2 separate regions of the Homo sapiens genome follow, and region 1 is linked to region 2. Evidence: fine-mapped expression QTL. A gene starts in region 2. The other region holds a variant in brackets. All regions are shown on one strand. Distances are between the middles of the regions.

Evidence for each region. PIP is the estimated chance that this variant, and not a neighbour inherited with it, causes the effect.
Region 1: its variant is fine-mapped to the expression of VIPR2 in whole blood (INTERVAL, PIP above 0.99).

The regions. Positions count from the first base shown.
Region 1 is chr7:159,102,601-159,118,140 of GRCh38, forward strand. VIPR2 (vasoactive intestinal peptide receptor 2) reads right to left here. Exons shown (of 13, transcript NM_003382.5): 3 at 7,212-7,319; 4 at 1,157-1,254. Among named protein-coding and RNA genes, the nearest start is that of VIPR2, 34 kb to the right of the region's middle. RefSeq lists an enhancer at 10,148-10,823. The variant TA/T (reference allele first, on the strand shown) is at 8,033.
Region 2 is chr7:159,137,046-159,152,585 of GRCh38, forward strand. VIPR2 (vasoactive intestinal peptide receptor 2) reads right to left here and starts at 7,822. Exons shown (of 13, transcript NM_003382.5): 1 at 7,676-7,822; 2 at 5,401-5,500. The coding sequence starts at 7,726. RefSeq lists an enhancer at 9,620-10,819.

The DNA.
Region 1 (15,540 bases), 34 kb before region 2:
AGAAGTGAGCAAAGGAGGCCTCTGTAAGAAAGTTGGGCTCATTCTCCCAAGAGGCAGCCAGGCAGCATTGCCACCATCCCCTGGGGGCCCAGAGGGCAGAAGCCACACCTCCAGGAGGGGCAGGCGGAGCAGGGTCAGGGCAGGAGGTGATCGGCCCACAAGCTGATGGTTTTGCCCGGAATGCTGTGGGCTTGTAGGAGAACATTTGCATGTGGGGAGCGCGATACTTCCCAGGGCTCCTTAGAGCAGCCTCCAATGTATCCCCTGCCTCCTGCCTTGCCCTGTGCAGGGAGCACACTCTGCACACACCTCTGGCTGCAGGTTGCTATGGTGCCCGCCACCCACACGGTGCTGCCAGGGCTGCCGGCAAGGATGGAGGTCTGTCTGGTGATAAACCACAGGCAGACGTAGCACAGAGTGAGCCCTCAGGAGAAGCAGCTGTCTGAGGCAGAGCTGGGGAAGTTTGCACGGATGGACCAGAGCAGAGCTTAAGGCCACACATCCCACACTCGGGAGAAACATCCTCATTACTGAAAGATCACAGCCCTGCAGAAGGGTTCACAGTGGACATAACACCCAAGAGCTCCAGATCACTGCAGCAAGTTTGTGCAGCCCGGATTGGGGGGTCCCCAACTCATCCTGGGACCCCTGCTCCCAGACACCTCTTGGCGGAGGACAAGCTGGGTCTCTTAGTTGAAAAGACACCCTAATTGTGATCACATCTCCTGCTGCAGGCTCAGGGCTCAGGAAACCATGGCGCTGACTTCTCAATGCCCCAGAATGTGGCAAAATCTTAAATGGGACAAGAAATCCAAATGCAGAAAGGGCATGCTCTCCAGGACTCATCTGAAAAGTAACTTTCGGGCAGGCGGGGCCACTCTCAGGTTCTCCTCACCATCTCCCAGACACATACACAGCAGGTCAAGAAAACCGGCCTTTCCCTGCCTGCAAAATGACGGAACAATCAAACAATCCCAAGTGCCAGCAGCAGAACGGAAACAGGGACTTCGCTTAACTTGGAAAGCAGAAAGTAGCATTGGTACTCAGAGGATTATTTAGGGGAAAAATCTACATAATTCTTGCAGGGCAGGAGGGGGCTTCTGGTGCAGTGTTAGGAAGTGGAACCTCACCACCGTAGCACCACGCAGGAGCCTACCTTGCTCTCATCCTCCGGGTCGCTGTAGCCACAGGCATCGACGAAATCTGGGAACGTCTCTGACCATCCGTCACTCGTACAGTTTTTGCTTATGTTTCCTGGAAAGTGAAGTTCAGATATTTTATCTGCAAGTCCATGAAAACTGGCCTTAGAAGGGACCTTAGTCCGTGCTGAGCCCGTGCTCTATTAAAATGCTTCCCACACCCAGGGGTCAGCTAGGAGACAGGACTGCCACTCAAAAAACCTTCCTTGCCCTCCTAGTCCATGTGACCTGGACAGCAGGTCACCTCTCGGGGCCGGTGGGTCCTGAGATGTGAGTGAACGCACTGTGTCATAAGTCATAATTACCGCAACTGTAAGTGTAGTTCTTTTGGGGCAGAATGAAAATTCTTAACAGACTCTTAGGTTCTGCCACCATAAGTGATATTTATAGCCAAGCCCTGGCCATCCTGGAGCCAGGAGCCCAGCCTGCCCCAGTTCCTGACAGCACCCTCCCTCCTCCCGGCCAGGCCCTCACCACCGACAGTGACCGGGTACCCCGCCTGCTCCAGTTCTGGGCAGCACCCTCCCTCCTCCCGGCCAGCACCCTCGCCACTGACGGTGACCAGATGCCCCACTGCTCCAGTTCCCAACAGCACGACAGTGACCAGGTGTCCCGCCTGCTCCAGTTCCCGACAGCACCCTCCCTCCTCCTGGCCAGCACCCTTGCCACTGATGGTGACCAGGTGCCCAGTCCAGTTCCTGACAGCACCCTACCTCCTCCTGGCAGCACCCTCCCTCCTCCCAGCAATGCCCTCCCTCCTCCCAGCCAGGCCCTCACCACCGATGGTGACCGGGTACCCCACCTGCTCCAGTTCCTGGCAGCACTCTCCCTCCTCCCGACAGCACCCTCCCTCCTCCCAGCAACACCCTCCCTCCTCCTGACAGCACCCTCCCTCCTTCCAGCCAGGCCCTCACCACCGACGGTGACTGGGTGCCCCACCCAGTTCCTGACAGCACCCTCTCTCCTCCCAGCCAGCACCCTTGCCACCGATGGTGACCGGGTGCCCGGCCTGCCCCAGTTCCTGACAGTATCCTCCCTCCTCCTGGCCAGGCCCTCACCACCAACGGTGACCTGGTGCCTGGCCTGCCCCAGTTCCTGACAGCACCTTCCCTCCTCCTGGCCAGGCCCTCATCACCAACCGTGACCCAGTAGGGCAGGCTCCATTTGGCCACTGGTGTTGGAAGAAAGGATGGCGGAATTACAGTTTAATTGTAGGAAACCAAGGCAGTTGTTCCCTTACAATCTCATCTTTTGCGCCTACGGAACTAAAATCATATGTAAGCTCAGAAATTCAATGTTCCTTGTATTTGTGTGTGTCCTTAGCAGATGGCCACACAGAACAGTAAGTGATAAAGCTCTCGAAGGTGTCCGAGCCGTAAGAATAAAACCAGGCACTGAACGCCGTGCCAGCCTTGCCCCGAGCATGGCTGCATGGTGTTAGGGTCACCCCCACAGCAGAGCCCAGGAGGCCGGACCCCTCCATGCACTCCTGGCACAGCCAGAGCGGAGCCCCTGTCTCCCTGCCTGGGTGACTGGAAGGGTCTGGGGCTTTGGATTTAGCAAATATTTTCACTCCCGTGACTTTTTAATTTCAAGACAACCCTGCAAGACAGACTTGGTGGGCGCTGCTGTTCCCATTTTACAGAAGGGGAAAACAAGGCTTTGAAGACTCAGTAGTTTGAGTGGGGTGCGTGCATGATTCTTGTCCTGCAGTGATGAGAGGCAGAGAGAGGGCCGGGCCAGGCTCTGGCTGTACTGGGGAGGAGTGGGGTGGGAGACTGGTCTCAGCAAGGCCTCAGGGCTGGCCCTGCCCACTGGCACCCCGACACCATCACCAATCAGGGGCTCTGACTACAAGGCCCACACCTCACACAGGGAGCCCCAGCAGGGTCTGGGGGCCTCTTAGCTGCAGAGACCCCATACACGGTAGAGGCAAAACAGAGCCCTAAAGCAGGCAAGCCTCCTAGAGACCTGGTCCCACGGCCCCATTGTGCAGACAAGGAGACAGGTCCACAAAGATAAATAATGTGCCCATCACAGACTCAGGAACAGCACTCATAATAGTTATTATAATAATACTAGTCATGTGGTAGTGGCCACTACGACTCACTGAGCCCTCAGGAATGCCGGGCTCTGTGCTTGCATCAACCCAGTTAATCCTGACACCACAGGAGGCAGCTCTCCAATTAATCTCAGAGATGAGACGGCCAAGGCTGAGGAAGTCGTGTCACTTGCCCAAAGTCACACTGGTGAGCGATGGGCCAAGCGCCACACCTGACAGCCTGGCTCTCACCTGAGCAGGGCACCTGCAGGCCCCTATCCTGAGCCTGGAAGCCAGGACCTCGGTGGGAGCTGAGCCTGTCACTCATCCTCTGCGAGGTGCAGCCTTTTCTCCTTCCTACGGGAGATCAGTGTTTACCAATCCAAAGAAGATGCTGAAATAAAACTCCACAAACTAAGTCAGAAAGTCATTCTATGAAGTGCAGATTCCCTCACAGGTTCTTTATCCTTTCTGACTTCTCACTCCTGAGACACATGGGGCAGATGTGGAAGGACAGGAAATGACTGAGGTGGCAACCTGCAGAGAGATCAGGGAGGTACAGAGAGACCAGGGAGGGGCAGAGAGAGGCCAGGGAGGGGCAGAGAGGCCAGGGAGGGGCAGAGAGAGGCCAGGAAGGGGCAGAGAGAGGCCGGGGAGGGGCAGAGAGAGGCCAAGGAGGGGCAGAGAGAGGCCAAGGAGGGGCAGAGAGAGGCCAGGGAGGGGCAGAGAGAGGCCAGGGAGGGGCACAGAGAGGCCAGGTAGGTGCTGAGAGAGGCCGGGAAGGGGCAGAAAGGCCAGGGAGGGGCAGAGAGAGGCCAGGGAGGGGCAGAGAGGCCAGGGAGGGGCAGAGAGGCCAGGGAGGGGCAGAGAGGCCAGGGAAGGGCAGAGAGAGGCCAGGGAGGGGCAGAGAGAGGCTGGGTAGGGGCAGAGAGGCCGGGGAGGTAGAGAGAGAGGCCGGGGAGGTACAGAGAGAGGCCGGGGAGATGCAGAGAGAGGCCAGGGAGGCACACAGAGGCCAGGGAGGGGCAGAGAGATCAGGGAGGTGCAGAAAGAGGCCAGGGAGGTGCAGAAAGAGGCCAGGGAGGTGCAGAGAGATCAGGGAGGTACAGAGAGAGGCCAGGGAGGTGCAGAGAGAGGCCATCCAGGGGCAGAGAGGCCAGGGAGGTGCAGAGAAAGGTTGTGGGGGGTGGGAGCACACTCTCGCCCACTTGCAGGATGACGAATACTTGAAGGCCTCCCTTAGGGCTTCAGTGCTTCTCAGCGACTATTCCAAGCCCCATGAGCCTACATCATCCTCCACTGGGGGATGTGCTGATGCCCCTTTAAAGGATCAGAACCACACCTGGCCCTACACCTGTGCTGGATGGGCGGCTGAGCTGCTGCCCTGGGTCTGGCTAAAACAGTGCCATGCAGAATTGGCAGGTGGGCACCAGGAGCAACTGGAAACACAGAAAGCAAGTCAAGGGAGAAAGGTCAGCACACAGCTGTCGGAGCTGCCTCCTGGCCCCTGAGCATGGGGCATGAACAGCAGCTGCTCACAGAAGGCTGTCCTCCCAGTGATGAGTCCTCGTGCCTCTCACCCTGGCTCCCTGCTTCCTTTGTTCCCCTCTATGCAGACAGTTGGCTCATTGCCTCCTGGAGGGGATGGGGGCAGGAAATGTCTGAAGCACCTAATCCTCACAGCTTTCCCCAAGCAGCAGTGGTGAAGTCCAGCCCGGGTGGGAAGAGGACTTGCATCCCGGGTCCCACTGCTGCAGGGCAGGGTTAGGACCTGGGGAAGGAGCTGCCCGCTGCTTCTGGAACCGCTGCAGGGCAGGGTTAGGACCTGAAGGAGCTGCCCGCTGCTTCTGGAACTGCTGCAGGGCAGGGTTAGGACCCGGGGAAGGAGCTGCCCACTGCTTCTGGAGCTGCTGCAGGGCAGGGGTTAGGACCTGGAGAAGGAGCTGCCCACTGCTTCTGGACAGGGCCCAGGGTCCCGCCTGGCACAGAGACACAGGGCGCCAGTGTGCTGGTCACTGTGATGATGCACAGTGCCGGACACACGTGATGATGCCCAGAGGCCACCTGCCTAGCATAGGACAGACAGCCCCCAAACCTCCCACCTGCTGGAAGGATGAGAAATCAAAAGAGAACACAATGTTTCATTAGAATGGTGACTTATTTCTGGAACACCTGGGTTTGTGGGCAGAAATGATTCCACGTGTGTTCTATGACCCAGCTCTCCTTACAGGTCATGGGAGGAGCAGCCATCACATGTGTAGAGTGTTCTGTAGACCACAGAGCACCATGCAGACGCAAGCCTGACTTTCATTTCTTTCTAAGACTCTACAGTTATCCCACCAAATTTAGTCTCTGAAGCCTCAGCTTCTGTGGTACGATGCCAGGTGGCTTCACCCCAGCCCTGCTCGGCCCCCAGTCGCATCCACATCTCTCTAAGTATTTGCAAAGGATGCCCATTTAATGCCCCAAAGATGAATTCCATGCGGACATTCCATGGGGACCATCTGTCCACAGTTTGTGCATGTCCTCGCATAGCTCACGTTTTTGTGATCAGTTGAAAAAGCAGAAGCATATTTCCCCTGCATTTCAGATCATCTAGCTGCGACTACTCAAGTGCCCAGACTTGGGGAAACACCACAAGTTTCCTCACAATAACAAGGTGGTGTCATGCTCCCTGCTTGGGAAAAAGGTGGAATAAGCATTTAACCCAAAGCCAACTGGGAGTTTTCATTCTCACAGGCAGCAGCAGGATGCTTCCAGGCAGGGCCAGAGCCTCACTGACCTGGGCGCCTGGTGCCCAGATGGCTTCTGTCTGGCAGAGGCTGGACTGGATTCTGGTGCTTGCTAATGTGCAAACTACCAGGCTGCTGGGTGCTTTCTGGAAGCCTCAGAACCATGCCATCGACTAGGAAAAGCCAGAGTCCATGCCAATTCCCTCCAGATCTCCAGGAGAATGGATGCAGCCCAAGCTGCTCAGTAGAAATGCTACTGATTGGAGGGAACAGTTCTTAAAGTTCAGGTTCTCTAAAGTGACTTAGGTTCTAACTCAGGGGTGGGCAGTGATGGTAATGCAAGCATGGTCCCTACCTTCAGGCTGCTTTGCTGGCAACTCGGGGTGAGAAAGTCAAAATCTTCCTTTCGGAATCTCCTTCTCCTCTGTCCCAATCTCTTTTCCAAAACTCTGCTTTAAAACACTACAGCATTATTACTTCCCAAAGTCTTTACCCTTTAACCTCTGTCCAAGATAAAAGTAAATTCTCCATAGTGCTCCAAAGTATTATGCTTTCTGTTTCCAGATGTTTCCTATGTTTTCTATTTTTCTGAATAGATTTCTTCACACTATGAAAATCTGAATCACTCACAAAAACAAACAAAACCTTTCTCTCAGGATTCAGCCAAGAGATATTGGCAGCACCGCATACGGAGCATGCCCTGGGTGCAGAGGAGGAGCCTGGAAGCCCAGAGAAACTGCAAATTCCAGGCAGCATCAAACCTGTGAGGCGGCAGGGAGGTTGGGGGAGTGGGTTCGATAAACTAGGTGTGTCCTGGGGCCTCTGCCCTGAGCATGGAGGCTCTGGGTGCCACACTTCCCACTTCCCAGAAACTTCCAGAGTGTGCTCTCTGGGGCTCACAGGCCGACTCAGTGGGAGGAGGGGAGCCTCCTTTAGGGCCCCCTTGCCTCCCCTCCCCTCTCATGCACGTTTCCCGTGCTTTGGTTCCCATTTGGCTCCTGTCTCCCCTGGTTCTTTCCCTGTAGTTGCCCTGCTCTCTGGGGTTTGGCTGAAGGCAGGTGATGCCCTTCTGCTCCCTAAGACGGGCACTCACCCCAATATGCCACAGCTGTTCCCTGACCCCCAGGGTAGCAGGAGATGCCTGAAGGAAAGTGATGTTCCTGCTTCTTGGATGGAAAAAATGGACGCTCAGATGCAAACACCCTGGAGGAGCTCAGGAACTCAACCGACGGACAGTACCTGCTTTGCTGTAAAAATTGCTGAAGACTTTTGGGCAGGGCACCGTGACGGTCTCTCCCACATTGGCAGGCCGCCAGCACGTGATGTTGTCCCAGACGCCACTGCAGGCTGGAAGGAGAGAAGCAGAGTGAGGCAGGTGCAAGGTGACAGAAGTGTCACAAATAGAAACCCCATTAATGAGATAACTGCCTCGCAAACTCCTTTCCTGTGAAACACACTTGCACCAACACAATTATTGAGACTATAGTTAGCTTGTGGGTTCATCTCAATTAGCTTTGGAGGAATAACCATATGGTGGTAGAAAGCATTTGAGTACTTCAATGTATACCATGTACCTTCTGAATTTTAAGAGAATCATTACTTACTTCTTGTGATCAGCATTTCCTAGTGTGATGAAATGGGCACCACTGGGTATTAGTGTAAGGCCCCGTCGGGGAGGGAGACGCCCAGGGAAAGTGTGCTTGTGCTTCTGTGGAATCTGACTTCAATGATTATTTGCAAATAAAAGTATTTGATAATATTTGTTTGATTTTTCACTGTCAAGATGCCTTATTAGCAACAAAATCTTAGGTTACCTTCATGGAGTTGTCAAATAATTTGCATAATGCATAGCTTAAACATTTTTAGACCTACTATTTGGTCTTAATAACCACCTGGTGAAGGTTAGATATAAAAATGTTGCATTAATTATCTTCCAGATGAAAAGCACTAAGGTTCAAATCTTTTAATGAATTCTCAATATCACACAACAGTGATGGAATGCATGTTAAACCCAGGACTTTCCTACTTGTCCATGGTATTTATACTATATTTGAGACCTC[TA/T]AAATTTTACCTTTTACTTAAACCTCAGTATCAGAAAAGCAATGTGCTAGCCTTGGTCGGTAAAACAAACAAACAAACAAACAAACAAACAAACAATCAGTTTTCCTTTCAGCACATGCCACCCAGACCTGTGCAATAATTGCAGGAATACATCCATAGAGAACACACAGCTTTGGTGTGAACAAAGGAGTGTTTTACTTTCAAGAATACAGAAATGTCTCTGAAAAGCTGGCCATAAGCTAAGTTTTGCAGATGAAAATAGTTTCTAAATACTTTCAATAAAAGTGAAAATATATTTATTATAAAATAAAATTACATACCAATACTTGAATAAGTACATAAATTCATATTACATTAATGTTAACATATTTAAAGAAAATGTTGGTTTTCTTTTAAAATGTTCAAAACAAGTGATCAAATGTAAATGCATCACTAGAAACTCCAGGCGTGAGCCCCCGTGTAAGGCTGCTTAGAGTCTAAGTAGTAGAGTTATTTAAATGCTAAGTTCGTAAACCAAGCACTTCTAACTCTGGTGTGTAGGGCAGGTGGTGGAGAGGTGTCAGGATGGGGTTCCTAGCCAAGAGTGAACAAGATGGAGAGGAAAGTGAAGATGTCTAGGCCTCCAAGTGAAGACTCTGCATGTGATCAGCAAAGTTCTGTCCATCTCCTATAAAACAGCAAGCTCTGGCAGTTTCGTGTCTGGTTATTTTGAAGGTTCAGCTTTTTATCACAAAATGACAAATTTCTACCTTGATAATAGTAATGGCTGGGTGTGGTGGCTCACACCTGTAATCCCAGCGCTTTGGGAGGATGAGGTTGGTGGATCATTTGAGGTCAGGAGTGTGAGAACAGCCTGGCCAACATGGTGAAACCCCGTCTCTACTAAAAATACAAAAATTAGCCGGGTGTGGTGGTACACACCTGTAATCCCAGCTACTCAGGAGGCTAAGGGAGGAGAATTGCTTGAACCCAGAAGGTGGAGGTTGCAGTGAGCCGAGATCGCATCACTGCATTCCAGCCTGGGTGACAGAGCAAGATTCCGTCTCAAAAAAAAAAAGCAATAATTATATAATATTGTTATTTTAAAATAATGGGCTGGGTGTAGTGACTCATGTTTGTAATCTCAACACTTTGGCAGGCTGAGGCGGGATAATCCCTTGAGCCCAAGACTTCAAGACCAGCGTGGGCAACATAGCGAGACCCCATCTCTACAGAAAATATTTAAAAATTCGCTGGAGGTAACAGAGCATGCCTATAGTCCCAGCTACTAGGGAGGCTGAGGTGGGAGGATCACTTGAGCCTGGGAGGTCGAGGTTGCAGTTAGTAAAGATCATGGCACCGCACTCCAGCCCGGGCGACAGAGCGAGACCTCGTCTCAATAAATAAACAATAAATAAGATAATGTATAGTAAGATAACTAATACATAATACAAATTATAATGCAATAATTATATACTGTATAATACTAATTGCTGCTTTAAATTTCAACAGAGATACTAAATTCATACCACATCAAACAGTCTTTGCATTACAGTAGGATTTGATTTAAACATCTAGAGCTAATCATCTGATCCCTTCAATGGCCAGGGAAAGTCTTCTCTTCATTTGTTCCTTTATTGGACCGCACGTGAGGGAGCAGAGCTAGACGCTGTCAGGATGTGAGGAAGCGGACTCGAGGGCGTCAGGGCGCCGAGGCTGAGGTAGCAGCCGGAAGTGCAGCCGAAGGCGCAGCCGGAAGCGCTGCCACAGTGCCGGTCGCACACGTGGCACTGGCTGCAACCTCCTGGCAACAGCTGCCAGGCGGGAACACAGGAGTTTCTCTCTCAGCTTCTCAACCTCACGCAAAGGACAGCCAAAAATTTGAAAGGGCAGCACCAAGAGATGTCACTACAGCCTTGCAGACAGAAGCAACTGTGTTAAATAGGCAGGCAGAGGAGGGGGAGAAGCGAGAGACAGGCCATCGGTACCCCCGGCACCGGCAAGGGTGGAGGACGCTGCAGGGAACCGACGGGACCCGGCCGAGAGCCCCGACTGTGAGGAGGCGGCTCACGGCGCCTACCTGGGACCGACCCTGACTGTGAGGAGGAGACTCACGGCGCCTACCTGGGACCGACCCTGACTGTGAGAAGGAGGCTCATGGCGCCTGCCTGGGACGGGACCCGGCTGAGAGCCCCGACTGTGAAGAGGAGGCTCACGGCGCCTACCTGGGACCGACCCTGACTGTGAGGAGGAGACTCACGGGACCTACTTGGGACCGGATCCTGACCGTGAGGAGGAGGCTCATGGCGCCTTCCTGGGGCCAGATCCCCAACCGAGGACCCCGACTGTGTGAGCAGGAGGCTCACAATGCCTGCCTGGGGCCAGACCCCAGCTCAAGGATCCCGACTTGGCAAGGAGGGGGAATCCAGAAGGAGTGGCTCTAGGAGTGAGAGAAGAGAGACAGACCCTCTCACATTGTTTTAGATTGTTTTATACTCAGAAAAGGAAACAGAAGCGAAACTAAAGGCAGGTAGCCCAGCGCCTAGGAACCAGACCCGACACCAGGCCTGGACCTGCCTGACCTAAGCCTGGTAGTTAAAATTTGACCCCTGACCTAGCAACTGATGTTATCTATAGATTGCAGACATTGTATAGAAAGACACTGTGAAACTTCCCGGTCTGTTCTGTTTCACTCTGACCACCCGTGCATGCAGCCCCTGTCACATACCCCCTGGCTTGCTCAATCAATCATGACCCTTTCATGTGAAACCCTTAGCGTTGTGAGCCCTTAAAAGGGACAAAAATTGTGCACCTGACAAGCTCGGATTTTAAGACGCTAGTCTGCCAATGCTTCCAGCTGATTAAAGCCACTCCCTTCACCATCTCGGTGTCTGAGGGGTTTTGTCTGCAGCTCGTCCTGCTACAAGAGAAAAAATGGAACCCTGAGACCACCTCAGTGCAGTGTCTTGAGAGTGTTCTGGCCTGAGGTTTGATGCCTAATTATTGAGAGGTAGGTGAAAAACCCAGCAACAGAAAAACGAGGAAAAGCATAAAGTTATGAAGAAAGGAAATGCTGGATATTATGTGGCTCAACTGTGATGGCAATGATGTACACCAGCAATGTGAAGTGAGTCTATCAGGAGGCTGGCAGGATGATAAATTATACTTGGGTGGTGGGAATGGCACAGGAGAGATAGATCTTTATTCTTGTTAGAAATCTAATGGACACTGGGATGTAAATTGGGAGGAAGAAAGAAAAGAAACAGGAGCATAAGTATGCTGTTTAGAAATAAAATAAATACCAGAGAAGAGATGAAAGAGATGCTGCCATAGGGCTGAGAACTGGGGATGACGAGGGGCCGGAGACTATTATCTTCATACAGCCTTGTAGTATCATTTGCCTTTTACAATTTTATAAATGCACTCTGTTGAAAACTAGCATTTAAAGTGTATCATTATATTAAGATACCCATTTTTAAATGTTTACATTTTTAAGGAACATTGTGCAGGCCAAAGCAAAATAGTGCATGAATAGGTCATCAGTTCAGTGTTGGACATAAGTGATTCAAATTTGGCACAGTGAACCCTTTGGGAGAGGCAGCGAATTTGGGAGAGGCAGCAAGTCCTTCTGTAGGAGTGTGCGCCGAGGCACAGGACGGCATGGGAGGAGAAGGGGAGGCAGGCAGGGCCACCCCCGAGAGAAGCACAGCCACTTGGAGACGCCTGTCTGTTTGGAAAGCAGTGGGCAGCTGAGATTTCATGAAACAAAGGATTTGCAGATGGAGTGAGAAACAAACAAAAGTGCTCGGATAAGGCAGTCAGGGAAATGGGACTTGTTAAGCTCTGGTGGCAACCTAGGTTTTCCAGATGGTGATCATAAAATCAAAGGTCGCTCTGAAAAGTGGAAAATGTATCAATAGACTCTGAAAAGTTACTTGGTAAAATTCAGTGGCCATTTCTAATTTTTTAAAACCCTAAATAAAATAGTAAAATAATGAGACTCCCTTAACATCACAGAGAATATTTGTTAAAAATAGCAAGCATTAAGCCAGGCACTGTGGTAAGTACCTGCAGTCCCAGCCACCCAGGAGGCTGAGGTAGGAGGATTGCTTGAGCCCAGGAGCTTGAGTCAAGCCCGGGTGACTGAGTGAGGCCCTGTCTCAAAGAAAAAAAAGAGGAAAGAAAGAATAGAAAGAGAGAGAGGGAGAGAGAAAGGAAGGAAGAAGGGAGGGAGGGAGGGAGCGGGGAGGGAAGAAAAAGAGAAAGAGCAAGTATTAGACATGTTTAAACAGAATTGTACAACTGAGGAGCCAGGTTGGGTACCTGCAATTCATTATTATTCAACAATGTGTCATAAGTTGCAGCTAAAACAGCAGATGAAAGAAGAACTAAGAGGTATAAATTGGTAAAAAGTAGAGAAAAAACCCTAGAACTGTACTTTCTATATGGCAACCACTAGCCTCACATGGCCATTTAAATGAAAGCTAATTAAAAGGAGATGCAGTTAAAGGTTTGGTTCCTCAGTTGCAGCCGCCGCATTTGAATGCTCCGCAGTGGAACTTGGCTGGTAGCCATCACACCAGCATTTCCACTACCATGGGAAATTCTACTCGACAGCACTGTCTAGGGTCAGAGTTAGACAAATGCAACATAAACCCAGCAAACCTGTCTCACAAATCAAGAAGCAAAAAGAGAGAGAAAAGAGCAATGAAACCCTTTGGCTCGCACACCGAGGCAGAAGCTCAGAGGAGCCGCTTCTCTGGGTCATTGTTCTTCGGCTAAAATGTCCCATGTAAATAATCCAAAATACCTTTGAATCAATATAAATGATAAAGTTGTTTCACTTATCACCCCAATCTTCCTCTTTCAAAACTTGGCAGAGGGGTAGAGAAGGAGCCTCCTCTGATCTCAGCAGCCTCTCACCCAAAGTCATGGTCAGGGCTTGGCAGGCAAGCCTGGCTGAAACAGGACTTCAATCTGTCTGCTTTGGACGTCTCACCTTAATTAGAACACAGCAAGGTGTGTCACCACTAGTGCTTAGAATGTGTCACCAAAGCCCCTGAGCTCAGGCTTGCTGGCTGGGTCGTCCCTTGGCCTTTTCAGATCACGCCCCTGACGTGCTGCCTGCAGCCTCCAAGGTCAGGGTGCTGGGAATGGAGGAACTCAGGCTGGCAAAGCTGGTGTCCGAGCTGCCCCACGCCCTCTAGCTGCCCTTCTCACCTCCGATTCCGTTGCTGCTTCTAGTCTTTCCTAAGCACTCAAGTCAGCTTCCTGGGGCCACGTGCTTCCTTTCATATACCAGCTTAGGCTGCGTTTAGCTAAGTAGTCAGGCAGCAGGTGTGAGGCATCGATTTGTTTGTGAACAGCAAGGTCTCCCAGGGCTGCTGTGAGCTCCACCCATTGGACATGGGGTCTTGTCCCCACCCTGCTATGTGGCCCCGTGACCTGTGCTGACCCCTCGGACTGACAGGCTCTTCCTTCTGGAAGGTGGTCATCACGGAAGGGCTGGAGCAGTTGGTGGGAGCCCTGGTCGGAAAGGCTGCAGGGAGAAGGCTTAGGCACCTGCTGAATGTAGGAAAGGAACAGCTTGGGTGACGTGGGCAGAACCTTTTGGGCCAACCTCAGAGCCTTGGGAGGAGCCAACTACTAATTTTGAAGCCAAGTTTCAGGAGATTTGTGCCATAGCCACACATAACCAGGAGCAAATCTTCCTGGGAAGCAAACAGCTGGCAGAGCAGAGTCACATGGGCCCTCCAGAGGGCACTGCAGTGGGTTGGCACCGGCATGGTCAGTGCCCGCATGGTCAGTGCATTTGGGAAAGCAAGTGGGCAGAGTGGGCAGTGACCGGTGGTCAGTCACAGGGGCTGGTCAGGGGGCTGGAAGCTTCCAGGCAATGAGTGACTTTTCAATGTAGACTGGCAGTGGTGGCTTCCTAATTTTTGCTTGAAAATCAGCTTAGTCTCCTGAAAAAGACACTGTAGACTAAGTCGTTCAGAAAAACGGACCCTGTGATGGTGCAGCCTTCCGACATTTCTGAGGCTTCACAGCATTTTCAACGGAATACACAGGGTTTGGGAAAGGCTGCTGCTTGAACAAGTTCTTACCGGTATGCTGGGAATTCCTCCAGGTGGAATTCTGAGGAACACAGCAGTAACTCAATTATGTGACACCTTCCAGCCAAAGGGGAGTGCGCACAGAGTGGGGAGGAACCTACAGGAACCTGCAATCCTACCGTATAAAAGACGCTGCCTTCTGTCCAGAGACTCCCTAGGAAGTCCTGGCTCTTACAGATGACGTTATAGGTGTTACTTTGAGCTCTGGATTTGGATTTATTTTCTCATTATTTCAATGTCAATGACATAAACATCAATTAAATTTCAAGAGACTCTTACGACATGCTCCCCCTTATCTAGGAAATGACTTTTACATATACTCCATTTTGTCCTCCCAGCAACTCCCTGAAGAAGGCGAGAGCCCCTGTCCTCACACTGGGGAGGAGACCAGGTTCACAGAGGGGAGGAAACACACTCTGACCACAGGACGGAGTGCGGGAGCCAGCCGAGCAGTCGGGCTTCTGGGTCACTGCCCTTTCCCTAGAAGGTCCCTTGCCATCTCAGACTGCATGGGACTTGCTTTATCACCAGTGTATACCACACACGAGGCTTCCTGTGACTTAATTTCTCAATGATTTTGTAATTATAAAAGCACTGGTCATGGAGCCAATGGGTAGGTATGTGGGTCCAGGATCCTCTTTAAACCTCCGGCGTGAATGAGGATGAATCCCTTTGTATGGCCTGTGAACAGACAGGATAACAGTGAGCACATGAAACATAGTGCCGCACCACACAAAGGCAATGCAGGACGTCATCTCAGAGGTGGGGCTGCACCTGCTGACCTGAGTCATGGACACAGATGGGTGCAACTCCAGTTGTCACCTGCACCATGCTTGCCACGCAGCTCATGCTCTCTTTGGACAATGGGCAGCTCTGGGAGGTGGTGCCCTAGATCTTCCCATGGTTCCCCCACACCCTCCTTCCATCTTCAGAGTCACCTGCCCCTACCCCACATGCAACTCCACAGAGAGTGGCAGCTGAGGGTGGGTGGCCCAGGAGGCCCGAGTCATGGGAAGCCACCCTGCTGCTGTCATCAGTGACCAAGTGTCAGCAGGACTTGGAGGAGGGGCATGAGGGCTGAAGCTGCTTCATCCAGACAGGGCTGGGGAACAGCTCTAGGAACCAGCGAGTGGGAAAAGGAAAGCTGAGAAGCAAAGCCTCCTGAGACTGGCCATCGGCTCGGATGACAGCTTGCCTCCAACGCATTTAGAAGCAAATATTTCCAATCGCATCCTCCACTCAAGAAAGCTTGACTTATGTCTCAAGTGACAACAACAAAGCTTCCTCCAGAATCTGGGCAGAGCAGGAAGTCCCAGCTGGTTCTCACGGGGAGCTCAGAGAGGCCGGGGGCGTCCCAGTCATCGAATACTCCCCTTGCACAGCAAATAACGGGCTGAAGGATGAGCCACTCTCTT
Region 2 (15,540 bases):
TGGGGTCACCAGCACCAGACTGAGCCCTGACCTCAGCAGGAGGGGTGGGGAGGAAGCTGACTCTGACCCCATCAGCAGCAGCTCACCTCAAGGGGCCGGCCGCCCACCCTGAATGGCTTCCTGTGACCCACTGTGGTCACCCAGGCAACAGCTCCGTTCTTCCCAGACAGGAGAAGCCATTAGTGCACTTCTGAGTGGCCCACTCCTTCACCTGCCAGAAACTGACTTCTCAACCATAATTCCCTTTATGATTCTTAAGCATTTTATTCAGGGTAAAAATTAATTCAGTGAGATTTGTTTCCTATAAAAAGTAAATATAAAGACATTACTTTAAAAAAAAATAGAGACAGCTTCTTGCTCTGTTGTCTGTGTTGTCCAGGCTGGAGTGCAGTGGTGCCATCATGGCTCACTGCAGCCTTGAACTGGGCTCAAGCAATCCTCCTGCCTCAGCCTCCTGAGAAGCTGGGACTATAGGTGTGTGTCACCACACCAGGTTAAGTTAAAAAGTTTTTTTGGTGTCTTGCTATGTTAATCAGGCTTGTCTTGAACTCCTGCCTTCAAGTTACCCTCCTGCCTCGATCTCCCAAAGTGCTGGGGTTACAGGCATGAGCCCATTGCACCAGGCATAAAGACATTACTTTAAGACTGTCCCAACCAATAAACAGTTATTAATTATTTAAATATCCAAGACGAGGAAATGACCTTAAAGAGTTTAGAAAATGGAAGAAATCTAGTCAAAAAGATCCAAAAGAAAAAAGTGACCAGGCTGTTTATCTCATCAGTCCAAAAAGTTATTTGGACTAGAACAAGGACCTACTTATATCAGAAAGAAAATGAAAAGGAAAGATATAGGCACCTTTTAAGATACAACTGACGTCTACACCATCAATATTGACATCAGAGGAACCTACTTCTCTGCTCTCTGCCGTGGATGCCAAAACTGCTCGGTTCAGACCTTCTGGAGCATAACACAGTGATTATTCATTTAGTTTCTTAGAACAGGTCTGCCTTGAATATCTGCTGAGGACCACGAACAGCGAGCTCCCACCAGAGCTCCAGCTCCCGCAGCAGAGGGCAGCATCGCAGGGCAGCTGAGCCGAGACCACAGAGCGAGGTGGAATGCTGCAGCCACACAGGGCCTTGGACCCTCCGAGGAGGGTCAGTGCCCACATGACGCTGTGAGCAAGAACCCATTTGTGGACACTGTCTGGTTTCCTCTGACAAAGAGAAACAAGCAAGAAGGGGTTAGGTGTAAAATGGGTTGTGATTAACCATATCCCACATGACACAACCGACACAGGAATGAGAAAGTGGGCTAAAATAGTGTCATTTGGTCATAGGAGATGGTGATTCCCATTTTATATGAGTGGCTTGAAGTTAACCCTCAAATGCTGGTGAAATATTTTATTCCCACCAACAAAACGGTCACTAGAACATTGTTTGTAGTAGCAAAATACTGTCGGCTACCTAAAAGTCCATGGACCTGGGAGAGACTAAAGAAACACATTAGAATACTATAGCAGCTCTTAAAGAGAATATAAGAACAAATGCAAAACAGTTGCCAAATACATTGTTACACTGAAATACAAAACAGAAAAGAAAAGCAAGATGCCGAGCACATGTGTGAAGAGTATGCCAGCTTCCACGTGTCTGGAAGGAAAAGCGGGGTCTACCCACGTGTGGACGTGTGCGCACCCCAACTCTCCAGGGGCAACTTGGGGCTGGCAGCAGTGAAGTCTGTAGAGACATTTCCCATTATATACATTTTTGAACAGAATTTTTCTATGTGCATATTAGATATATATATGTATATCACTTAATTTCTACTGTGAGAATTTTCATTAATTTGTTCAGCAAAAGCTTTTAAAATATCTCTCTAGATGCTAAGTTCTGTGTGAGACTTGGGAGAAGCAGCAGAAACATGATGCCATCTCCTCTGGGCACTGGAGGAGAAGGACCAAGAAATCACACAGTGAGTTATGATCACGAAAGTCACAGGATGCTGTGGGACAGGAAAGGAAGCACATTTCCATCCTACTCAGCAGCCACCAGTCCTTGCTTTAGGAGTTCATTCCCCCAAGTATGATAGAGAATATGTTTCTCTGACATAAGTCATCCTTCTTTCTGAGGATGTTTGTATAGCAAACAACCTAGGAGAGTTCGATAATTAAGATAATTACAATACCATCTCTCTCTGTAACAAAGGCTGGGGATTTGCCAGCAGCCTCCTTTTGACACTGGGGGTTTCCTAAGCCAGTTCTCCTCAGCTACAACACAAATGCACTGCATCGGAGGGGGCCGCTCCCACTGCTCCTGGGGGGCTTGAGAAGCAGAGGGAACCCGTGCGCACACGCAGCTCATGATGCCTGCTGTGCTGTGAACAGCAAGTCTCTTGTCTCTGGCCCAGCATCTCACGTCTTCTGCAGCATCTGCAAAACTGTGGCAGGCGACGTTGTTAGCCTGCAAGTGGGGAATGACCTCAAACCCTCCATAGTTCCTGACATGTAGATCGAAATTAGTTCAGCATCCATTGTTTTAAAAAAAATCAAAGAAAAGTTAGTTTTTAAGCCTAGCACTTTCCATGGCCTGGTCTAAGCTGACATTCACAGTCAGATCCATTTCAGCCATGCGCCTCTGAAGGATGTCTCAGAACAGTGAGCTCCCAGAACACATAGAGACCACCTCTGCTTCTCCCCAGAGGAGGTCACACCCCTCCAGACGCGGGTGTAAGAATGATATAAAGTCACACGAAAGTTCCTATCCAGCCTGTGCCTAGGCAGGAAGCCTGGACAAAGCCCCCTCAGGGACCTGTGCCTTCCACCTGCGAGTTGGCATGGGCCATGGAAACAGGGCTGGATCTCGGCTCTGAGGCCGGGAGTGCCTCATACACATATCGGCAAGAGAAAGCTTGTCTTAGTGATGCATCGATGTTAAGTCATACAGCTCCAAATAACTCCTAAGCTTACAAAGAGAATCCCGTAAGAGAGCTTAGAATTGAAATTGGTTTCTGTCTGGATTTACGTGTTTTTTTGTTTTTGTTTTTTTTTTAGATTCAACATGTAATAAAGAGAAACATTTCCAAATCAGACTTACACAAATTACCTCATTGGAATTGGAAGCTAGATTTTTTTCACCTCATTTCTGGCACTCTTTCACACAAATTTCTTAATCGTATGGATTTAAAAGTGGCTGTAACAGACCCTCAGTATCTCATCTCACCTGGCGTCAGGTGCAAATGCACACTGTTGTCTCGTGGAGTCACTCAGCCCATCTAATCAGACGCCTGCCTCAGCCTCAGCCTGTAGATTCCGGTTCACATCGCTGATAGCATCTTTATTCTGGTAACTTACTTCTATTTACATCCCTGGCATTTGAGCCACGCATATTTCAAAGAGTACAGAAAAACAAAAGAGTGGCCAGGCTGAGGCCCCGGCATGCTGCTGCTTCTCTCCTGAAGGGCAGTGTCTTGTTACCAAGTACTTCGTGCAAGTCAAAAAGGTAAAACAGATCAGATACAGATATTTTTCCTACAGAGCTGACACTGGAAATAAGAGCCTTCAATATGAGATGTCCAGGTAGACACCTTGTCGCTGCAAGAAAGCCGAGTGACAAGTTTCCCAACCAACGCTGCCTGCGAGGGGCTCTCGGGCCTGCATATGAACCCGCTCAAGCTGGCGTGGGGCTGAGTGACTGCCTGGGACCTGCGGCCCCTAGCGCCCGATATGACTCACACACGGACTGCCCACTGAGGGGGAGCCCCTGTGAATAGTGTAAATGTGCTGACCTGCCTTTGGGTGAGGGTGTTCCAGGAGGCGTCGCCAATCTCAGGTTAAGCTAGGGTCCAGCTACCGTGCAGAGAGCCATCAGATGGCTCCAGGCTCCCTCAAAATCTTTTTTTTTTAATGTATTGTTTGCAAACTTTTAAGAAAGTGGAATATTTTATATAAATCTGCATTTCTAATATCCCATGAAAACAGGAAGCTGGACAATTTGGAACTTGGAGGTGAGGAGGGCAACCCTAAAAGCCTGTCTCTCCTCAGGACTACCTTTCCTAACTCAGAACTTTCACTGGAAGAAGGACCTCCCATGGCCACGCTGCTGCTTCTGCCGTGGCAGACTGGCTGCCTCCTCCATCCACATCTCCTGGGCCGCATCAGCATTTCCCAGGACAGACTCTCAGCATGGCTTCAGCCAAGTTACTTTATTTGCCTTTCTCTGGACAGAGTTCAACCAGACAATCTGGAAGATGGGCCAGAACCATGCGTGCACCGCGGAATCGCAGATCTTTACAGCCGGAAGAAGCCTCGGAGGCAGAGCCTGCACGTTTCAGACCAAGAAACGGTGGCTCAGAGGGGGATGGGAACGGGCAGGGACACCTGTTTTAGTGACAATCTACAGCCCATTGTCCAGCGTGGAGACCGCTGGCCGCCTGTGGCTACTGGACCTTGAAATGGGGCCCAAACTGTGTCGTGCTGTAAGCACAAAAAACACACTGGACTTCTACAACTTAGCATCAAATAAGAATGCAAAATTAATAACTTCAGGTTGATTATACGTTGAAATGTTAACGATTCAGATTTATTCAGGTAAATAAAGGATACTATTAAAATTAATCTCTCATGCTTCTTTTTACTCATTGTAATGTGGCTTGCATTCTGTTGCTGCTGGGCAGGGCTATTCTTGAATAAAGCCCACCATCTGAGGCCCTCTACAGGACAACAGACTGTTTTAACACAGATTTAATTTCTTTCTTGAAGAGGAGAAAATCATGACAAAGAGCAGAGAAAGCTGAGGGACAAAGGCCTTGCTACTATTTATAGGCCGGGTGCTATCCCAGGGCAGAGTCTATAAACAGGTTGATAGCAGGCCCTGTTGGAGCATGATGGCCCAGCATGCCTCTGTCAAACCGGAGAAGGCGATCTGCACGTTCACAGTGTTCACCGCAGGCCCGTCTTCAGCACAACCAAAGTCCCATTTTCCTGTTTGCTTTCTGCCAAGTACCCACCATCCTTAACCAGATCAAAATCATCTGTCCTATAGCTAAGAATTTAAAATGCAAGAATTCAGATAAATGCTTATCCCCTGGAAAACTGAAGCTGCTTTTGCAAAGCATAACAAAGCCCATGAAATTGTTTTAGTAACTGTTGCTATCATCTCAAACCATGGAAACTGTTACTGCTAAGGATTAAGGTTATCTTTTTAAAGGTGTGTGTGAAGACCCTACCTATCCAACTCTCTCTGAGTTTTACCAGTAGTTCATTAACAAACAATGGGAAGTGGCCTTTCTTTTTCTTTTTTTTTTTTTAAGATGCAGGTGGTGACCCTGAACCACAGCTGAGTGAGGCGCATTCCCGGGTGAGAATGTCACGGGAGTTCTTACTCACCAAGCCTCTGCCTTACCTTTGTGTTTTTCTGTTTGAGACCTCAGAAGCTCTGCACATTTTGTTTCTTCCTCCTGTATTTCCAGATGAAATCGGCATTCTGGGTGAATGCTGTTCACCTGTTCACGGTTAAAAGAAATATTAATAACTAAAAATTCCACAAGAAGAAGAAAAGCAAGCAAAAATTCTACAAAAACAACCCCAAACCTCACAGCTTTAAACTGCTTCCAAACCAAAATGCATTTAAAACCAATCACCTTGATTTTTCTGGCATTTTTTAAAAACTTCACTATTTACTTTGTAAAGGTATTATAAAACAAACACAAAATCTAATAGAATTTTTTTTCTGAGCAGGAAAATGAACTTACTAACAGAATACATCGGTACTAATTTGGAGGCAACAGAGCTCTTTACTCCATTCATCTCTCCATACCCGGCTCCTCCGTTTCACACCCTTTGGTTTGGTTTAAGCGGATGCCTGTGGACTGTGCCGCTTCCTCCGAGGACGGCCTCCACCCGGGAAAGAGCCGTGATAGAAGGGCTTTATTTTTAAAGGTGTTGGTACATGTTCAAAGCTTAACCCTCTAACTACAGATAAAACTGCAATCGTTTTGACTAGAATTTGGGGTGGAAGAGATATTCAAAGAAATCAGCAAGATGAGGAGGGAGGCAGAGGTGGGGGAATCACACCATTGTGGCCCCACAGAGAAGAGGGGGCGATTTCCAGTCAGGATCCATCAGGGGAGCGAAAGGTGCCACAAAGATAGTAATTAACAGTCTACTAATGTGAGAAGAAGGCAGAACTACACAATGCTTCCTCTCAGAAGGCACCGTTTCTACCTTGTTCTTCACGCCCTCCGCGAAGTCAGCACAGGCCTGCCAAGCGGCCCTTGGGGGCTTAAGGAGGGCTCCCCCCACCCATCCTTTTGGTCTTGATCTTCCCCCTCCCCCACCACCGACCAAAATTCTACTTGTACTAAAGTAGTAACTAAAGAGAATCATACTGTTGGGCGTACTATGGCCATCTATGTTTAGTTATCTTACTATTGAAATGGTCAATGAGAGTTCCAACCAGGAACACAATATCCTAACAGAATTAAGGGGAAAACAATGCTGGAACTTCTGCCACCTTCAGCCCCATTTAAAAGAGCCCCGAGCTTGCTTCTTGCTCGTGACTGAACCAGCACCAGGCACTGACTTTGGGCTCCAAGTCCTCTGTTTTCATGCAGGACAAGTAAGTGGCTTAAATTTCAGAATTAAGGAAATTATATTGATGTAAAAAGAAAAACTTTGTTAAAGTGTAAAAGACATTAATAATACCTGACGTTCCTGGAATATGCACAGCAATGACTTCTTTTAGGACATTTTAGCAATGAAAGCAGCATTAACCGTGATAAAACCCGTTACTTTCCAAGGACCCGCTCCGCAAAGCGCCCACCCTCGAGGGAGGAAAGCCGAGCTGCGCCTCCGCGCAAGGCCAGGGAGTGTGGCTCGAGCCCCGCTGCAGACCGGGCGTCGCCGGTTAATCAATGACACTGTCGGGTCAGCAGCGCAGCCTCCCAGCTGCGGAGGGGCCGCGGATCGATCCAGACCTGCCTCGGCTGCGACGCGCACGAAAACCGCGCGCACCGCAAACCCGCTTCAGTCTCCAAGAGGAAAGCAAGAAACAAGGCTCGGGTTTTTTTCTTTCTTTTTTCTTTCCTTTTTTTTTAAGGTTCACAGAGGGAATAATTCAGAACTCCATGTGCGAAGGCACTTAATCAACAAACTTATGAGCAGTTAGTTCCTCCAGTGCCCTTGGGAAAAAGCAACTATTTCCAAAAGGAAACTTTATTTAACCGACGCCACGTCCCCCCGACACTAAAACTAACCAGTAAGTACAGGGAGGGACCGAGAGGCATCTGCGGCCAACGCCAACCCCGATCTCCCCGTGAAACGCGCAGCCCGCGCAGGCGCCCGCAGCTCCCAGCTCCCGGGACGGCCCCGAACGAGCTCATCGTTGACGCGTCCAGGAAGAAACGATCCCGTTTCCAGCAAACCCCGGACGGTGGGGCGCGGGGAAGGGCGCAGGCAGCCTCCCAACCCGAGTCCCGCAACCCGGCGGGACCGGAGCTCAGCGCTTCACGCTCTCCGGGAGGAAGCTCCGGACCCCGGGCGACCCCGCTCCCTCTCCCGGACCCCGCCCGCGCTCCAGCACCCGGGAGGAAGGCGAAGACCGGCGGGAGGAGCGCTCTTCTCGGAAGGGGAGAACCGGGTCCGAGGCGCCGTGGGGCGGGGGTCGCGGGCGCACTCACGGGGGCGAGCAGCCAGCAGGTCAGCAGCGCGGGAGGCAGCAGCGTCCGCATCCCGAGCTCAGCGTGCCGGGGGCCGCCCAGCGCCCGCCGCCTCCGTCCTAGGTCCCCGCGGTTCCGCCGCCTCCAGCATGGGCCGGGAGCGAGTGCGCGGAGACCTCGGGCCCCGCAGCTGTAGCCGAGCGCCCGAGCGCGGGGGCCGCCCCCTCCGTCCCGGCAGCTGGAGCGCGCTCAATGCACGCCCGTCCCCCACGCGCCCCGCCGCTCCGCCCCCCGCCCCTGTCCCCGCCCCGCGCTGCCCCAATCCTCGTCTCCCTCCTCCCCCGAGAACCCCCGCTCCGCGCCCCTCCTCACCGCCCCCCACTTCCCCTTCCGCTGCGCCCCGCGCCCTCTCCTCGCCCCTGGGCTCTCTGTCCCCGCCGCGCGCGCTCCCTCTGGTCTCCTCGACCCCCCCAGCCTCTCTCTCCGTTCTCCTCCCCTCTTCCCTGGCCCACGCCCCCCTCCCGGCCGCGCCTCCCCGATCTGTGGGCGGAGGGGCTGGGAAGCGGGGTGCTCAGTGCGCGCCCGGCTCCGAGTAGAGAGAACTGGGGGAGAGCGGCCGGCGCGGGGCCGGGAGAGGAGGACCGGGCCAGGTGTGCGCTCGGAAGGGGCGGATGCCTTTGCGGCCGCCTGTACCTGCCTTTCTAAACAACTGCGGAAGCCCAAGAAAGCGGCCAGAGACCCGTCCGGGGTGGGCGCGCCGTCTTTGTAGCCAGTGGGGCTAGGTTGGGGCATCTGAAAATGGAGAAAATCAGAGTGCTTTTTGGTGGGGATCCCCGCAGCCTCAAAGAGGACATCAGGTCGAACAGAAAGCTGGAGAAAAACGCAGACGGGGGTATAGGTGGGTCCCAGCCTCAGCTGGGTGGCGGGTTTTGTGTCCTGCGTTTGCAAAACGGGGGTCATTCTCTCCCCGCAAACGCGGCGGCGGGTGGGGAACGCTGGGCGGGGACTCACGCGGTGCCACTGGGGCCGCCCCGCCGCGCCCCACGCGGGACTGCGCGGCCTCCCAAGGCGCCCGCGTGACCAACCCAGGAGAGCTCGGCGTTCCCCAGCAAGTGGAAAGCACTGGAATGAGAGATACAAGTTAAGTTCGTGTTGTTTTAATTTTTTATTTGGAAATAATTTCAAACTTACACAAAAATTAGAAGAATAAGAATATTACAAATAACTCCTTTTTATCCTTTTTGTGGATTCGGTCATTAACATTTACCTCATTGGGCTTATCATTTGCTTCTCTCTGATCCCCCACCCCCCGTATTCACAGATATCGATTTTTCTATCATCTGATGTTTATCATCCACATTATCTATCATCTACCTATCCATCATCTACGTATCATCTATCGATCTGTCATGTACCTATCATCTATCATCTTCCTATCGATCATCTATCTGTAATCTGTCATCTATTATCTGTCATCTATCATCTACCTGTCCATCATCTACCTTTCATCTATCCATCTGTCAGGTATCTATCATCATGCGCCTATCATCTATCATCCACCTTTCCTCTATCACCTACCTGTCATCTATTATCTATGATCTATCCATCTATTATGTACCTATCATCTATCATTTGCCTATCTTTCATCTGTAATTTACCTATCTATAACCTGTCATCTACCTATTTATCATCTATCATCTGCTGTCATTTATGATCTATCCATCTATCATGTACCTATCATCTCTGTATCATGTATCAATCAGCTATCATCTACCTATCATCTCTCTGCGATCTATTACCTATCTATTACCTACCATCTACCTATTTATCATCTATCATCTACCTCTCTGTCATTTATCTATGATCTGTCATGTACCTATCATCTATTATCTTCCTATCGATCGTCTATCTGTAATCTATCATCTATTATCTGTCATCTATCATCTGCCTATCCATCATCTGTGATCCGGCATATCTGTGATCTACCTGGCTGTCATCTATCAATCACCTATCATCTGCCTATCTGTCATCTGGCTGGCATCTATCAATCACCTATCATCTGCCTATCTGTCATCTGCCTGTCATCTATCAATCTATCATCTGCCTATCTGTCATCTGCCTGTCATCTATCAGTCTATCATCTGCCTATCTGTCATCTGCCTGTCATCTATCATCTGCCTATTTATCATCTATCTGTGATCTATCATATCTGTGATCTGCCTGTCATCTATCAGTCATCTATCATCTGCCTATTTGTCATCTATCTGTGATCTATCATATCTGTGATCTGCCTGTCATCTATCAGTCATCTATCATCTGCCTATCTGTCATCTGCCTGTCATCTATCATCTGCCTATTTGTCATCTATCTGTGATCTATCATATCTGTGATCTGCCTGTCATCTATCAGTCATCTATCATCTGCCTATCTGTCATCTGCCTGTCATCTATCATCTGCCTATTTGTCATCTATCTGTGATCTATCATATCTGTGATCTGCCTGTCATCCATCATCTGCCTGTCATCTATCGATCATCTATCATCTGCCTATCTGTCATCTGCCTGTCATCTATCCTCTACCTGTTATCTATCTGGCTTCATCCATGTGTATCTAGTGGGAGACGAGGAGAGGGAGACCTGGGCCTTAGGCGGGCTGCTTGGCTTGTGAAGAAAGCTCGTGGCGCTGGGTGCCTTCGACAAACGCATCTTTTTCTCCCGGTTCCACCTGGGTGAGCGATGAACTTTGAGCTCTATGCATTTGTAGGAATGACAGCACCTGCCCTTCCACCGCAGAGGGGCTCTGTAATAATCAAGGTGATTAATGCACACGTCAATACCTTGTTGAGGGCCTGCATTTTAGAAGTGACTGTCCAGGGTGCAGTGAGGGGTTGCATGATGGGTGAGTCTTCCCCTGCAGCAGTGCGTCCCGATGGACGGGGTAGACCAGGAGAAATGGCTGTGGTCGTAGCTAGATGGCACACTTCTCTGAAGGTCCAGTGTGTGTGTAATCACGGGCTTTGCTGAACACCCCAAACCCTGCGGTTACCTGATGCTCTTAGAAAAATGACCAAAGTTCTCAATATGCCTTTGTAAACAAAAGATAAAATTCTAAGCCCCCCAACCAACTTAATGGACTCCCCTCTTGGCCAAAGGGATCCCAAAGAAACCTGAAAAACGAGTTCAGGCCATGACAGGGAGAGGGGGTTGGGCAGGCCTCACTACACCCTCCTTTCCTGGAGTTCATGACCAACATTAACATAAAAACAGAGCTCCTAAGGCTGACCAAACAGACTGTTCATAGCAATAAGATAGCAAATTCCCACCAGACTCTAGTAGAGCATCACATGACGGCCAGCAGGCCCTGAAGAAATATATTTCTTTGACAGATTTTGAAATGGCCCAGCAAAGCTGTCTGTTGGGGAATCTTGCACTCTGTGGAGAATCCCTGTCCGTCACTAGGTCTTTCTGGAGAGTCTGACACCTTTCAAGGCCCTGATAGTAGACATTCACATTCACTCTCTCTGAAGCCTGCTAGCCGGAGGCTTCATCCACAAGAACCTTGGCTTCCACAACCCCCTTTATTTTCACTCAAGCTGATATCAAGTCTTCAGGCAGATCTTAACTCTGTTTTACCCAACGGCCAATCAGGAAATCCTGTAATCCACCTGTGACCTGGAAGGCCCCACACCCCGCTTCAAGATGTCCCACCTTTCTGGGCCAAATCAATGTATACCTTCCAGATATTGCTTTATGTCTTTTCTTGTAACTTCAGTCTCCCTAAAATGTATAAAACCAAGCTATACCCTGTCACCTTGGGTGTGTGTTCTTGGGACCTCCTGAGGCTGTGCCCTGGGCCATGTCCTTAACCTTGGCAAAAATCAACCTCTAAGTTGATTGAGACCTGCCTCAAATACATTTTGGTTTACACCTTTGAACAGGCAACCACCTGCCATGCTGGGCCTGGCCTGGCTTTGCCCATTGCCCCAGCGTAACCGTTACTCGTGTCCCCCTATTCTTGGAAATGTCCTGGTTTGGACATATTATGTGAAGCACATGGTCACCCTACATGCGAGGCCACACCTGATCTGGGCCTGAGTCTCCTCCTGGACCCGTCTCGCAGCCTCCACTCTGCCTCTCATGCCTCAGCCTTGCTGATCTCTGGAAGCCCCAGGCACGCTCCGCCCCAGGCACCCTCCACCCCAGGCACATGCCTCCCAGCTTCCACCTGTCTTGGCTCAGGTGTCTGCCTTAGGAAAGCCCTCCCAGTCTGGAGAAGCATCCTGCCTTTCCTCGCTGGGGCAAAAGCAGAGACCCTTGGACATATCTAAGCAGAGTTTAGTGCCAGGCCAGCCGGGGACCCTACTCAGCTCAGCAGGAGGCTCAGCGATGGAGGCAGAGCAGCTGGAAGAACATCTCAGATGGTTTGTCCAAGAGACGGGCACACACCAGTGCGTGCCGCAGCCTGCCCGGGTCCCCCTCCCACCCCAGGCAGGCACACACCAGCGCATGCCATAGCCCTGCCCGGGCCCCCTCCCACCCCAGGCAGGTGGGGCTCACAGAGACAGGCCACCAGCCTCTCCCTTCTGCTTCTGACCAGTTCTTCCAGGAGGTGTCTCTTTCTCCTCTCCTGGGGCCCTGACTGTTGCCATCCTCCAATTTCTCAGACCAACCAGGCTCAGAGTTCTTTAAACTTCCCTTTACAAGGAGGTGTTGCCACTTTCTTGGAGAACTATTCTTAGCTTAATATAATATGATGCGATAGGATACAATATTTAGAGAGATTATTTGATGTCTGCCCCTCCAGTGAATGCCCAGCATTGTGGGTTTGTACAGCAGGTGTTCCCTGTTTGTTGATGAGCAAGTGGGCAGATGTATGAGTTACTCCTGGTTCCACTCACTCCAGTCTGGAGGGTTCAGCCAGCGGCTGCCAGGACAGCAGGGCCCCACCCTGAGCACTCGCCCTCAAGCCCAGCCCAGAGCCCACGCTTCGGCTCCACAGGCAGGGAGCAGGTCAGTGGGGCTGCCCTCCAGACCCTTCCCCTCGCCAGGGCGTCCTCACTTTCTGGGTTATGCTCTCCTCTCTGATTCCCTTTCAAAGGAGAAGCAAGAGGTGCTAAATCGCTAACATTTGTGGGTGAATTGGTAAACCAGGACTTTCCTTTTTGAGAGATGAGGCCCGGGTGGGGCCTGGTGGGAGGAGGGAGAAAGCTGTCAGCTGAGCCTCCCTGGTCATCATCGGTAGGCATCGGTCATGCATTTATCACTTGTCCAAAATTCCGAGGGTGTGGGGGATCCAGGGAGCATGGAGAAGGGGAGAGGGGGTGAAAGGAGGGTCCTGGGAGTGACGGGGGACCCTGCAGGCCGGGAGGCCAGCGATTCCAGGCCAGAGGGTCCTGGAGTTCAGAGAGAAGCAGGGTCTGGTTTGACGGCCATGCCACCTTTCCAAGTGGCTTTTTAGGGAGAAGAGAAGAAAACAAACAACATTAAAGGAACAAAAGAGGGAACTATTTTTAGCTGCGTGTGAAGCAGAAATAGAAATCTCATTGGGGAGTAAATTGGTGAATGAGACTAAATTTAAAAATTTGCTTAGAAATGAATAGGGAAGGATAATTAATGACTCAAGTGGTCCTTTAAATAATTAATAATGTTCTCCTGGGAGTAATTAAAGCATCACATGAAAGTGAGGCATTTTCTATGCCTAATTGTTCTCAGTTACTATTTTTACACACAAAACCAGAGTTTTTACAATATCAAGAACTTTGTCCTCGTATTTTCATTAAAATACTGATTTTTTGTTCTTAATCTTTTTTCCCATTTTCTAACCTATTTTGCTAGGTCCTCTCCCCAGTTCTGAATGCCCTTTGGAAGAGGATGGGGACAGACAGATGAGGGTGACGGGATGGAGATATTCCCTCAATATAAGAGTTTTCAAAGTGTTATTTGCTGCCAATTACTAAGCCATGCTTTCCCAAGGCATAACGCTGACAGTGGCTGATTAACGTCTCCCTTGCTGGCGTCCTGAGGAGCAGGGTCTTCTCTTTTATTTTCAACCCTGTGGCAATCAAGAGCCCTGGGCACCCAGAGGCCCAGGTGTGCCGGCTCTACCTGGAAGCATTTTCTGATCTCTCCGGACACAAATCTCCTCATTTGTAAGGGGAACCAGTTGAAGGGCTGGTAGACTATTTCAGTGACCCCCAGAACCCGCAAAGGCAAACTAGGGTGACATTTAAAAACTGAATTTAGCTTCATTTTCATATTCACTTGGAGTCTTTAACAAAATAAACTGACATTATGAGGCGTTTTGCCTCCTATGCTCTCAAAACCGGAAATAAAACCCCTTATAGTTTCTTCTTTTTCATCTTTGGAAGACAGAAGCCCTGGAATGTTGGCACACCTGGGATCAGGAGCACTCCTGTGGCCACAGCTGTGTCTCGGCTGTGCCGTGGGATTCTGTCCTTACTCCAAGGATCAGCTCCTCATCTGAAGGAAAAAGGTATTACAGTGACAGCTCACTCATCAAAAGATGACTTTTCCAGGAAAGTCGCTGTCTGAAAATTGCCAAGACCAGGGACATTTGTAATAGCCCGGTTCTAGGAAAGCCAGGAGGAAACTGCTCTCTGACAGGGAGGCCGTGAATGCTCCGCCACGCAGAGCTGAGGTCTGGCTTAGACCCTGAGCCCAGCCACCTCTGGCAGTGGGGACCCTGTCTCTTCCAAAGGCTGTGGGCCCAGCTGACCTCATGGCTGGCCCTGCTCACCCCCAACCCTCAGTCCTTTCAGACTCCAGGGATGTGTCTGGAATTCCATAATCACAGTTGGAGCTTCTAGCCTAGGGCTGCGGTCAGCGTTTAAGCACAGATGCCACTGCGGAGGGGAACTCTTTACATTGGAGAGCAGAGGACAGGAGTGTGAGGAAATGAGGGGTGAATGAGCCACAAAAAAGGGGGGCCGGGGATAGAGATTCTCAGGGTAAATTTGTCAACCTCAGAATTTTTCTGTGACTTTACTTTCAATGAAGCTCAATTTTGTGAAAGCTGATGTTACTTCTGAAGTCTTTAACAGAACGATGCATACCTGTGGAAATACATTTTCTTTCCACTTTTTCTATAATCTCTATTTATAGTAAATGTGTTAAATAGCTACCTATTTTAGAGCATGTGCAATGTGCCAAGCCCCAAGCCAGGTACTAGGAACTCTGAATAACTTCCTGTCTCGTAGGGACTGACACTTGGGGACTAGCAGAACCTTTTAGGAAAAGCCACACACCCTATATTAGTCAGAGTTCTCCAGAGAGACAGAACCAACAGGACATGATGTAGATATGGGTATGTGAGAGGGGGATTATTGGGGGCCTAAACCGGCTCACAGAATTACGGAGACTGTGATGTCCGGTGATGTGCCCTCTGCAAGCTGGAGCACCAGGGAGGCTGGTGGTGCAATTCAGTCCAAAGGCCCGAGAGCCAGGGGTCCCATGGTGTAATTCTCCGTCCAGGGGTCCCATGGTGTAATTCTCCGTCCTGGGGTCCCATGGTGTAATTCTCCATCCAGCGGTCCCATGGTGTAATTCTCCGTCCAGGGGTCCCATGGTGAAATTCTCCGTCCAGGGGTCCCATGGTGTAATTCTCCGTCCAGGGGTCCCATGGTATAATTCTCCATCGAGCGGTCCCATGGTGTAATTCTCCGTCCAGGGGTCCCATGGTGAAATTCTCCGTCCAGGGGTCCCATGGTGTAATTCTCCGTCCAGGGGTCCCATGGTGAAATTCTCCGTCCAGGGGTCCCATGGTGTAATTCTCCGTCCAGGGGTCCCATGGTGTAATTCTCCGTCCAGGGGTCCCATGGTGTAATTCTCCGTCCAGGGGTCCCATGGTGTAATTCTCCGTCCAGGGGT